Linked DNA regions of Homo sapiens: all the other regions are linked to region 3. Evidence: fine-mapped expression QTL. A gene starts in region 3. Each other region holds a variant in brackets. All regions are shown on one strand. Distances are between the middles of the regions. Region 1 overlaps ANKDD1B (ankyrin repeat and death domain containing 1B). Region 2 overlaps POC5 (POC5 centriolar protein). Region 3 holds the start of ANKDD1B (ankyrin repeat and death domain containing 1B).

What was found. PIP is the estimated chance that this variant, and not a neighbour inherited with it, causes the effect. A credible set is the group of variants that fine-mapping cannot tell apart.
Region 1: its variant is the best candidate, but not a certain one, in a credible set for the expression of ANKDD1B in T cells (TOPMed, PIP 0.59).
Region 2: its variant is the best candidate, but not a certain one, in a credible set for the expression of ANKDD1B in tibial nerve (GTEx, PIP 0.89).

The regions. Positions count from the first base shown.
Region 1 is chr5:75,656,310-75,660,554 of GRCh38, forward strand. ANKDD1B (ankyrin repeat and death domain containing 1B) reads left to right here. Exons shown (of 14, transcript NM_001276713.2): 10 at 2,974-3,072. Among named protein-coding and RNA genes, the nearest start is that of ANKDD1B, 47 kb to the left of the region's middle. The variant A/T (reference allele first, on the strand shown) is at 2,499.
Region 2 is chr5:75,674,051-75,678,295 of GRCh38, forward strand. It overlaps POC5 (POC5 centriolar protein), which reads right to left. Exons shown (of 12, transcript NM_001099271.2): 11 at 3,724-3,900; 12 at 74-528. The coding sequence ends at 385. Among named protein-coding and RNA genes, the nearest start is that of POC5, 41 kb to the right of the region's middle. The variant A/G (reference allele first, on the strand shown) is at 1,971.
Region 3 is chr5:75,609,334-75,613,578 of GRCh38, forward strand. It overlaps ANKDD1B (ankyrin repeat and death domain containing 1B), which reads left to right and starts at 2,120. Exons shown (of 14, transcript NM_001276713.2): 1 at 2,120-2,494. The coding sequence starts at 2,302. POLK (DNA polymerase kappa) reads left to right here. Exons shown (of 15, transcript NM_016218.6): 15 at 1-658. RefSeq lists enhancers at 806-1,613, 1,614-2,420, 2,421-3,227.

The DNA of each region.
Region 1 (4,245 bases), 47 kb after region 3:
TCTTTCTCAGCCACACAACTGGAGTTCAGCCATTGCGTGATTAAATCCTTCATGTTTAACAGGCCCAGCATTTTTGATAGAAAAACAGTAGCTCAGAGCTAAATGGCCAGAGGCTCTTTAAATCAAAAGCCACTCCCCCAGAGTGAAATATTGTAATTGGCAGGGAGCCTTTCCCCCACAAGAAGGAAGCTTTGTTTCTATATTAAAGACAGTAAATGTATCTTCTCTTTACCTAAAGGCAAAAGAGGCCTCTTGGAATAAAAGAAAAATCACTCCAATTTCAGTCAACTGGAGCAGAATCAAATGACTCGTTAAAGTAATCCATCACTGGCTGGAAATGGGAATGCCGCAACGGAATGATGAAGGGAATGGGGGTGGGCACTGAATGAGCCTGCTCTCTGGGGCTCTTCTGGGGCTGGCCTGCCCTCTTCCAGGATATGTAGGGGAGTGGGAAGAGGAGCCTTTCCAGGGTCCCGAGGCCAGATGAGACCTTCTGGCTGCCTCTTCCCAGAGAAGGCTCTGCGGTGCCCTTCCGGCTAGGGAGGAGCCATGGTGCAGTGGGCATGCCTGCCTGTCCTAATACACTGTGAAACCAGAGCGTTGACTCAGATCTCTGCAGTCTCCTCCAATTCCCACCTATGAGCTCAATTTTGCTCTGAGCTGAATGAAGATTTACCTGTACTTCGGTCCCTTCTCTCCTCCAGGGAACCTAGCCTCCTCCCCTGCCTTTACCTATCCCAAAAGTTTTTCTGGGGAAAAAAACCAATCTCCTTTTGTTATTAAATATACTTATGTATTCAACTACGTTAATATCTAAAATCTTTCCCAATGGGCAAAATCTTTGCTGAACACAGAGGCAGAGCTTCGTGCTCACATGTGATATTGGTTTTGACAGAACTGGCTAGATGTACTCTAGGGAAGGAGTGTTTGTTAGGTTTGCTATCCTTTTTCAGAACCAGACTTCATCACTTTAATTTTTTTATTAGACCAAGAATACACATAAAAAATAGGAAATTTTATATTTTAAATATAAAATATGTATGTAAAATTAAAAATATAAGCTAAAAAAACTTAATGTGTTTGAAGTCCCCAGCAAAGAAAGATAACTCTTCTTAATGTTTTAGTGCATTTCCTGCCTTCTAGACTTGTAGCAGTATTGTTAAAATGGGTTTTGTTGCATTTGATACATTCCATTTTCATCTGTTCCATGTTGGTACAGATCTTTGATAGGTTTGTCAGTATAAGTGTAATGTCTTGAATGACAAACACCTAGACACACTGCCATTTGAAGGTGAGTCTTTAAGAAATGCTTTTTGGGGCCGGGCGTGGTGGCTCATGCCTGTAATCCCAACACTTTGGGAGGCTGAGGCGGGCGGATCATGAGGTCAGGAGTTTGAGACAAGCCTGGCCAATATAGTGAAACCCTGTCTCTACTAAAAATGCAAAAAATTAGCTGGGCGCCTGTAATCCCAGCTACTTGGGAGACTGAGGCAGAAGAATTGCTTGAACCCAGGAGGTGGAGGTTGTAGTGAGCTGAGATCGCCACCACTGCACTCCAGCCTGGGCAACAGAGTGAGACTCCATCTCAAGAAAAAAAAAAAAAAAGAAATACTTTTTGGAAGCCAGGTGTTTTGGGTCACACCTGTAATCCCAACACTTTGGGTGGCCAAGATAGGAGGATTGCCTGAGGCCAGGAGTTTGAAACCAGCCTGGGCAACATAGTGAGGCCTCATCGCTAAAAAAAAAAAAAAATTAGTAGAGCCTGTAGTCTCAGCTACTCAGGAAACTGAGAAGGGAGGATTGCTTGAGCCCAGGAGTTCGAGGTTACAGTGAGCTACTATCATGCTACTGCATTCCAGTCTGAGTGACAGAGTAAGAAACTGTCTCTAAGAAAAAAATTAAAATATAAATAAATATATAAATGTTTTTTGGTAATATCCCCAGCATATTGGCCCTGTGCTCTGGTAGGAAGAGTAGTGGGCCACATGCCATTGCCCAGCTCTGTGAGTCTGGGGTAGTTGCTTCCCTTTCTGGTTAAGGAGTTGGGCTAGATCACATCAAAGGATCCTCTCTGCCCTAATATTTTAGAAATCTCTTCACATCTGCATTCCTTTTGGTGAGAGGTTAAGACGGGTGATTTTCTTGTGATTTCAGATATTTCTTTTGAAACTCTTATCCTCTTGATAGGAAAATGATTACTCCAGAAGGAAATTTGAAGTCTTGGACTCCTTTATACATTATAACGTAGAAAATTTAGAGAACAGAAATGCATTGAGAAGGCAATAAAAATAAACTCTAATCCCTTCATCTAGACCTTATCATTAGCATTTTTCTGTACTGTATTTTTGTCTCTTTCTCTATGTGTATTTTTCATTAAATCAAGCTCAACTAGATAGTATCATTTCCTAAAGTTTCAAATGTTATATCAAAAGCGTCTTTTATTTTTAAAAAATCTTCGAAATAATTTTTATTGTAGTAAAATACACATAAAATCCACC[A/T]TTTTAACCATCTTAAGTGTACAGTTCAGCAGCATTAATTACATTCATTTGGTATAATATCACCACCATCCATCTTCAGAACATTTTTCATCTTCCCAAACTGAAATTTTATATCTATTAAACGGTAACTTCCCATTCCCTCCTCCAGCTCCTGGGAACCACCATTCTACTTTCTGTCTCTATATATTTGACTACTTTAGGTACCTAATATTGAAATCATTTTTAAAAAAATAATTTTTAATGGTTGCCTGTTATTCCAATATATAGATTATCATAATTTATCTAGTGAGTCTCCTTGTTAAACATGTAATTTCCTTTCAGTTTTTCACTATTGCAAATAATAATGCAATGAATGCCCCAGTATCCATTAAAAAATATATGACCTGTGTTTTCCCTTGAACCTAAATAGGATGGCTATACTTTCCATTTGTCTTTTCACCGTCCAAGTTTGTTCCCCTCCTTAATTTCATGGCAGAAGCAGCAAACCCCTCTGCATGTAGCTGCTGATCGTGGAAATGTGGAACTGGTGGAAACCCTGCTGAAGGCAGGCTGTGACTTGAAGGCTGTTGACAAGGTAAGTGCATGGACTTTACTCCATTCAGCTGAGATGGTTGCTAAGACCTTCCTGTTGGATGTCAGCCTTGAGCAGCGTTATTGGAATATCCTTTGTGAAATGGGCACAAACTGGAGAAACCATGCATCTTCATAGTCAGTAAAATACCCCAATTTTGGTTGAGCTATGTCAGTAAAAATTTTTACTCTGAAGAAAAAATATGTGTTTTTAAATTCAAATTCTGAAAAGATTATAGATTCGTATGGTCCAGAAATAAAAGAATATAATTAGTAAGGGTTTAACAGTAAAAATTTCCCACCCACCCCTGTTCCTACTTGTCTGGTTACCATACTACCCCGCTTATATATATCCATTATTATAAATTATTTCTGTTCCTTCCAGAGTTTTTTATGCATATGCAAGCAAACATAAACACATTTTACTCTTATTCCCTTCCTCCTTCCTTTTTAGACACTGATGGCATACCTATAACTAGTATACTGTTCTGCATTTAGCTTTTTTAGCATTATTAAGTGGAGATATTACTACATGGAGAGTTTCTTCATTCTTTTTTTTTTTAGAGCTGCATAGTATAGCGTGGCACAGACATATCACAACTTGTTCAGCTAGTCCTCACTTGATTGACATTTAAGTTGTTCCTAAGGTTTTGCTCTTATAAACATAGCTGCAATGAATGACTTTACATATGTCTAAACTTGTTTTTTTAAATTAAAAAATTTGTGGTAAAATACACACACATAAACACTGTCTTAACCATTTTTATGTATATAGTTCAGTATGGTTAAGCATATTCACATTGTTATGCAATTGGTCTCCAAAACTTTCATCTTGCAAAAGTGAAACTTTACACTTATTCAATAACTTGCCATTTCTTCCTTCTCCCAGCCCCTGGGAACCACCATTCTACTTTCTGTTTCTATGAATTTGACCACTCTAAGTACCTCATATAAGTGGAATCACATAGTATTTGCCTTTTTGTGACTGGCTTAGTTCACTTAGCGTAACGTCTTCAAGGTTTATCTATGTTGTAGCATGTGTCAGAATTTCATTTCTTTTCAAAGCTAAATAACATTTCATTGTATGTCTATACCACATTTTGTTCATTCATTCATCCATCGATGGACATTTGGGTTGCGTCCACCTTTTGGCTATTGTGTAAACCTGTTTTTAAAG
Region 2 (4,245 bases), 65 kb after region 3:
AGTAAGGTTCCCTCTCAACACTTTGAGTGAATTACAGCTGTGTAATATTGGAAATGATTTAGTGTTTTATAAATAGTGAAAATAAATTTATATATTTTGATGCTGTAATCAGCAACAGGCTAAACATATTAAAGAAATAAAGTCCAGTTTCTTTTTTAATTTAAAAAAGTTTTACTTAATTGCTTAAATAAAAAATAACATTAAAATAATTTCTACATATAGTTACAAAGCATGGTAGAGCTTGAAAAAGCCTCTTGTAATTTTGAACAGATGAACATGATGTCTCCATGATGTTCTAACAATATGGAAAAGTTAAAACCAAAAGACTTCTAACCCTTGGTAAGACCAGAGGGATTAAAAGACCCCACTATGGACATATTCACTTTAGTCAACCACTTTTATGGAATGAACACTTGTGAGAGACTGGGTGTGAGCTGATCTGGTTCCAAGTGATCTGGAAGCTGAGGTACTACTTTCAGGATGAATGGTCCGGGGATATTTTGCTGCAGTTGCTTGAGGAATGGTTTGCTGAAAAGACAAAATTCTGCTTTAATAATATCCCAAGATTATGTATACTATGTATCATTTCATCATCTATCATCTATAATTTAACCCAATAAACATTTGTTAAGATCCAGTAGAAAGAAGCAATGAGTGGAGTGAAGCAGCTGTTAATTAGATGAGGCCTTTGTCTGTAAGGAACCCCTACCCAGTCTGACTGACATGTTCAACACCCACAGTGTAATATCAGAGCTATATCCACAAGGCTCATTAAGAAAGCCACGGCAGCCATTCCTCCAACAGGGCCAAGTGGAATCTTGTAATGTGTACAGAGGCTTTGTATACAGAGAGAAACTCTGTGGTGTCTGGAAGAGGGGTCAGCCCTGAGTCCTCCCCTCATTCCATCCAACTTCCTTCTCTCTACTTGACTGTTAGTATGTGGATGTGATTATCTCACAATCCCAGGGGCACACGGAAGCCCTCAGGATGCAGTCTGGTCCTTGCTTTAAACCAGAGCCCTCATATTTAACCTGGTTCACCTGGGAGCAGACTAAAACTTTTATGCACATCACCTCAGAGCTCAAAGGAACACCTCAGACATGAGCACTGAGTCATTAAAGTCAGGACACACGTGACTTACTTGACACACATAATATGCATGTAATGCATGTAAGTACACACTATGTATACAAGTACACATTTACATGTAAACATGAACAATATGTATCAGTACAAGGCTTTTCCCTATTAAACCCGATAAAGCTTCTTAGTAGCCAGCAGTGGGATTTGTTATCAAGTTCTCAGTCCATATCACTGACTAGGACATGTCAATTTCTATTAGGGTCTTCCACTTAGAAAAGTCATTGTTAAAATAGTTTAAGTAAAATTACATGTATTTGGTCAAAACATTCACTATGTATTTAAAAAACTCCAAGCTGTAGTTTTTGCTTAAAAAAAGAATGAAACTTCTTAAAAACAAAAGATCCTGTCAGATTCCATTTTAAAAAGAACAGAACTCCTTTTTAAAGAAAAATAACTTCTTTTCTTAAAGTATCTTATAAAAACGTTTATTTGTACATAAACAACTGGATAACCATTATAAATAGGAGATACTCTTGCAACAGATAAGAAATTTTAGTTGCCAGTCACCTAATTAGTTGCCAGCCACTAACCTGAGCCTGCCAAAAAGGCTTTCTCCTTGAGGAGGATGGGCAAGAGGAACTGTAGAAATAAAGTAGCCACTGAAATTATGATACACAAAATATGACAGAGAATGAAGTGGCCCTAGAAGCATGCAGTTACCCAGCAGATGAGGCTACAGTGTCACAAATCGCATCCTTGGTTTTTTAGTAATAACTATTTCTGGTAGATTTAGATCTTGATTCCCAGGGTGAAAAGAAATACAGTACAAATGACTGCCACTGTGTCTGTCACATAATCCAGGCAGCTGATGGCTATCTGGTTCATAC[A/G]CAGTTAGTGGGTAAGAAATGCACATACTGAATAAAGGGAGGGCAGCATGGGAGATAAGTATCAGAAACAAGGGTTCTAAATGTTTAGTACTTTGATTTTTCTTCTGTAAAATATGAATTCCCATCATTACTACAAAACAAAAGCTTGTCTAATAAAAAATAAACACACATGTGCTCTCTTTACACCTTCTTTACCTCACAAATGGACAGTCTCTCACCATCTCTATACATTTTCTACATCTGAAAAAACAGAAGTGGGTTTATTTCTTCTCATTTTTGATAACTTGTCTTCCATATTCAAAAATATATAGAAAAGTCTTCTACGAACTTTCAGAGTCTGTCCAACTTATGAAACATGAAACCTAAGATAATTCTAAAATAAATCCTCTGTCATCTCCATGTCTCTATCTGGACTTGGTGCTTCTATCTCCAGCCTTCCACCTCGCTAAGGTCCCACTTCACCTGAAGTTCAGTTCAAATCAATCCAGCTTGTCTTCATTTAATCATCTAGTGCCCAGCTAGTACTCGGGAAAAAAGGATTTAAAATCATTCCATATACTTTTTTTTTGCTAATACTTAGAAAGTACACAGGAACGTTGTCCGATGCTGAGAATTTATAGAGGGCATTCTCTTTTAAAATCAGTCCCTGAAATCAGCTGGGGGTGGTGGCGGGTGCCTGTAATCCCAGCTACTCGGGAGGCTGAGGCAGGAGAATTGTTTGAACCCAGGGGGCGGAGATTGCAGTGCGCCAACATTGCGCCATTGCACTCTATCTAGCCTGGGAGACAAGAGAGAAACTCTGTCTCAAAAAAAAAAATAAATAAAAAATAAATAAATAAATAAATAAATAAATCCTTGTTTTTCTTTAGGGATGTTCTTATCACTCTTATTATACTTTTTGAGATAATTGTTGATTCGTACACATTTGTAGGAAATAATTCAGAGATATCTCATGTATCTTTTTCTAGTAACTTTCAGTAAGTTAAATTTGCTTATGGTTTTATAGTTTATAAAATGCCTTAATACATCTCGTTTAATTTTCACATTATCTCATTTAATCTTGAATCCTAACAATAACCCAAGGAGCTAACTATTTTTATTAACCCCATTTTACAGAAGAGAAAGTGGAGGCTCAAATATTTTACTTGATTTGTATATATCACAAAGCCAACAAGTAGCAAAGCTGAAGCACTAACTCGGGTTTTAAAATTTTTGCTTCAAATTCAATGCACCTTCTTTATATCACATGCATTTACTGCAAGTTGAATTTTGTTAAACTAAAAACATGCTGACAATTGTACTGAAAAAAGGGGAAGACTTTTTTTAAAAAAGGACCAAAAATTAAAAACTATAAATGTAGGGGAGTTTTCTTGTAATCAAATATCTGCTACATGAGCAGCTAGTGAGTGAACAATTTTTGTCTCTTTTTAAACTGATAATAAAGCATTTACATATTTTACTCTTTTGACCACAAACACACTGGATTACTTTTAGTATTTTATAATTTTTACAGTTTGGAAGAAACGATGTTTCTGAAATTAATTTCCCAACAGCAGAAACGTAGATTTATAGCAGGTTTGAGAAAAACAAGTATATATATTAAAAAAAAAAAAAAAACTGTAACAGGAAAAGGCAGAACAAGTACCAGTCATCATAAATTTTTATCTTCTCAACATGTTATGTAAGTGTTTACTAGTCTATGAACTCTCAGGAAAAAGACTTTTTGACAAAAGGTCATCAAATGTGGACTCACCACTGTGACTGGATGATGTTTTTCCACAACAACTGAGCTCATGGGAGGAGAAACTCCCATTATAGCTAAACTGCTGCTAATTCTATTTTTTGAAGCAAAATCACATCTTCCTGTGATCCGGGCTGTAATAGTTCTTCCTGCTTTCTGTTGTGCAGAGGTTACAACTCTTGGCACATACTAAGAAGAAAAAAAAATAAAAGAAGTAACAAGGTGGCAGAAAATCCACAGCAAAATCTATTGATTCCATAAATTATGAAGAATACACAGGCACTTAAAATAACTGTATGTTCAACCAACTTTAACATGGAAAAAACAAAATCACAAGACGAAAAGCAAAACAAAACTGAACACCCCAAAATATCCCTTTAACCTGAGTATGCCAACGATTTTATAAGATTTTAGAAACTTAAAAAACCAACTTTTTTTTTTTAAATGATAGATTTATAGAAAGACACAGAGATCATATTGAAAAGTACTGTGTGCTCTTCACCCAGTTTCCTGCCATGGTTACATCTGACATAA
Region 3 (4,245 bases):
GCTCATTGCAACCTCTGCCTCCCAGGCTGAAGCCATCCTCCCACCTCAGCCTCCCAAGTAGCTGGGACTACAGGCATGCACCACCATGCCTGGCTAATTTTTGTAGAGAGGGGGTCTCACTTTGTTACCCAGACTGGGAGATTTTTCTGTACTTGGCTGTATGCTTTCCATTGATCTGCTGCTGTTTTCACTATTATTCCTTCTTTTGTGTGGGTATTTTCTTTTGATTTTTAGAATTTTACTTGTAAACATGCTACATATACATATAATTTGGTGCCCTGTTTTTCCATTTACATATTATACTTTCCATATTAGTACATTGTCTGATATTTCTGCATAATACTCAATTCAACTTACCTGCTATTGTTTTTATCATATCTCTATTACAAACATTAGGCCCATTTCCCTTTTTTAAAAGAGGAAAGTTTGAGGTTATGGGCGGTGTTCTGATAAAATAAATAATATTTTGTCATGTTTGTTTTTTCATTGATTAGGAAACATTGTTTTGAATTTAATGCCTCAAATTTGGTGCACAATAATTTGAAGGGAAAAACTGACAAGTTTGAAATGAACATTGATATTACATAATTTACATTAAAATGATACATCTTTTGTAAATTTGTAAGAAGAATAAATAAATGAAAACCTGATTACCTTTCTTATTTGAAGTTTATTTGGGGGGTCAGAATTTGACTTGCTTCTGTATTATTTCACTTTTCAAAAGAATCCGCCAGGAAAGATTAAAATTCATGGTCTTCAAATGAGAAATCAAGTCTTACTTTATTCAAAAGAAAATGTTGGAAGCCCATTTAGAAATGATTTAATATTGAAGTTCCTATAGTGTTAGTTATAAATTCAACCTTGACATTTCTCAAAATTATACAAAGAAGTGGTAGAGTAGAGCTGGGAGTTCATTGGGGCTTGTAGATTTTGCAGGAATTTTTTTTTTTAATGTGTTAAAACAAATTTTATTTACAATAACAGGCAGCAGCGGGATTTGGCCTGGGGATGGAGCAAAGTGACCCCCTGCTGTAGAGCAAGGTGAGTGAGTCACGCCCTTGACAACACATTCTTAGAAGTCATGCTCGTTAGGGGCAAGTTCTGTTTCTTCCACCAACGTCTTCAAGCCTCAGAATCCTTTTCTATCAAACGGGGCTAATAATAGAATACACCATACCTCAGAATTAAGTGAGGCTGTGCAAAAGGTGCTTAATTCTGTGCCTGAAATGTAGCAACAGACAATAAATCCATCTAACAACAAATTCTTATGAAGAAGGTATTACAATAAATTCTTATGAAGAAGTTATTACAATAAATTCAGTGACAAGCAATGATGGCAATGGAAATAAAAATGGAGAAGCAGATGTAATTAAGAGATTTGAGAAGTAAAATTGGCAGTTCCTGGTGACTAAAGCATGTGTTAATGATAGTGATAGTGATATCCTTGGACCATTAGTTGTTCAGCTTTGAATACCCTCCCCAATTTCTCTGCTTATTCTTTTTTTTTTTTTTTTTAGTATTTATTGATCATTCTTGGGTGTTTCTCGGAGAGGGGGATGTGGCAGGGTCATAGGATAATAGTGGAGAGAAGATCAGCAGATAAACACGTGAACAAAGGTCTCTGGTTTTCCTAGGCAGAGGTCCCTGCGGCCTTCCGCAGTGTTTGTGTCCCTGGGTACTTGAGATTAGGGAGTGGTGATGACTTAACGAGCATGCTGCCTTCAAGCATCTGTTTAACAAAGCACATCTTGCAGCGCCCTTAATCCACTTAACCCTGAGTTGACACAGCACATGTTGCAGAGAGAACGGGGTTGGGGGTAAGGTTATAGATTAACAGCATCCCAAGGCGGAAGAATTTTTCTTAGTACAGAACAATATGGAGTCTCCTATTTCTACTTCTTTCTACACAGACACGGTAACAATCTGATCTCTCTCTCTTTTCCCCACATTTCCCCCTTTTCTATTCGACAAAACCGCCATTGTCATCATGGCCCGTTCTCGATGGTCGCTGGATGTTTTATTTTCCAGAGAACCAAACCTTAGCACTGTGCACGCCACACCTGAGGGCGGATTATCCCAGGCCAGCCCAAGTCAGGGCAGGGCTGGAAACTAGGGGCTTGTTGCCCAGCGAACCGCCACAACAGAGAGCGGACTCGATCCTGCGCTCCGGCCGGGCTGACCTGCCTGCGTCCAGCCCCCGCGCCCTGGGCCTGCCTGGGTCTGGATCTGTGTCCGAGTCTGGGTCTGGATCTGGGTCCGAGTCTGGGTCTGGCCCTGCGCTCAGGGCCCGCGGAGGAGACTATGGACCCCGCCGGGCGCGCCCGGGGCCAAGGGGCCACGGCAGGGGGGCTGCTGCTCCGGGCTGCTGCGGCCGCCAAGGGTCTCAGGGAAGACCTGTGGGGCGCGGCCGCCCTGCCTTGGAGGAGCCTGTCCCGGATCCCGAAGCGGGAGGGTCTTGGAGAGGAGGACACAGCAGTTGCCGGACACGAGCTCCGTGAGTCCCGGGACGAGGTCTCAGAAAATCAGGCTGCGGGGCGGGCTGGGTCGAAGGGACTTGAGAAGGTACCCAGAGCAGCACCTCCGGACGCTGCAGGAGGGAAACTGGCGAGGCGACTCAGCCCTGGGACCCCGAGTCCCAGCCTGCACCGCTGCACTCCCTGTTGGCTGGTTTTCAGCTTTGGAATCCACCCCCACCATGTACTGTGGGTGGAAGGACAGTATTATTCTTCCGAATTAAGGAGGAGGCTTTTAAAAATAATGATTAAGTCCTTTTGCAAATAAGAGTTTCATGTGCTCTTATCTCCTATATCGTGACTCATGCTCCGATTTATTGTCTGACTTTAAATAAGTCAGTCACTTAATCTTTCTGCACTTAAGTTTTTAAAGCATGGAGTGGATCATCTATGCCTTGGGAATAATGTGTAGCATAAACTGAGGCAGCTGTTAAGCAGTTCGAAAGCTGAAAGCGATTTAAGTCTGCCCCCGCCCCCCCCCGCCCTCCGCCCCGCCCCCGCCCTCCGCCCCGCGTGTAGGGTCTTGTTGCTCTGTTGCACAGGCTGGAAGGCAGTAGTGCAATCACAGACCTCCTCAGGCTCAGGTGATCCTCCCACCTCAGCCTTCCCAGTACTCAAGCCTCTTAACGGGGCACACCATCCAAGCCTACTGGCTGGGACGGCCTTATTTCCTAAACCAGGCTTGGAAGCTATACACCAATTCATCAATATAGTGTTCATTCAGTCATTCTAGAACTATTTTCAAGGGCTTAACTATTTGCTAGGCATGTTCTAGATGTAGGGTTGGAGAGAACAAGACAACCCCTGTTCTGGTGGAACATTCTGTTGTGGTGGAGGGGTGATAGACAATAAAATAAGTACGCAAATAAATGAATAAGATAATTTAAGGTAAGTGCAGTGAAGGCCATGAGACAGGGTAATGTGGTTGGAGTCAGGCTGCCTGGGACAATTCTATAACTTACAAAGCATGAGCAAGTGGTATAACTTTTGAAGATCTCAGTTTCCTCATCTGTAAAATGGAGGAATCATGCCTACATCAACAGATTATTTGTTTTATATAAACCCTAGGGCATTCTAATAGTTGGAGATCAAGCAAAGGAAAAAGAGCCAGTAGAAAAGACTAGAAAGCGAAAGTTGGTTTACCAGACCTCTAGAGAAGAACATGTTACATGGAGTGTGTGTTCCTCTGTGTCAAAGTTGCCAAGAGCTCAATGCACATGACGGAGGTATGATGACTGGGTTTTGGCAAGGCGGAGTGACCTCAACAAGAGCAGTTTCAGTAGAGGGGTGGGAAAGATGTCTGATTAGCATGGGTTGAGACAAGACTGTGAGATGAAGAAATGGAGACAGCAATTATAGAATACTTAAGTTTGGGGTAATGGAAAGTTGAAAAATGCAGCAGCAGTTGGAAAGGAAGCTGGGGTCAAGGGAGGGTTTTTTATGCATAGGGTATTATGGCATCTCAGTATTTTTTGAGGGGAGTGATCCACTGGAGAGAGATTAAGTGATCTAGAGGAAAGAAGAGATAATTTCCAGGAGATTGACATATGAAACACTTGAAAAGATAAAAGGGGATGGGATCCAGAGCCCAAGTGTAGAGGTTGGCCTTTCCTAGGTACAGGGATGCTTCATCCTGCATATATAAATGAAGGTAGGTTGGTAGACTCACCTAGGTGGGAAGATGTGGGAATTCGTGTCCTATTACTTCTGTTTTCACTATGAGGCAACGGTA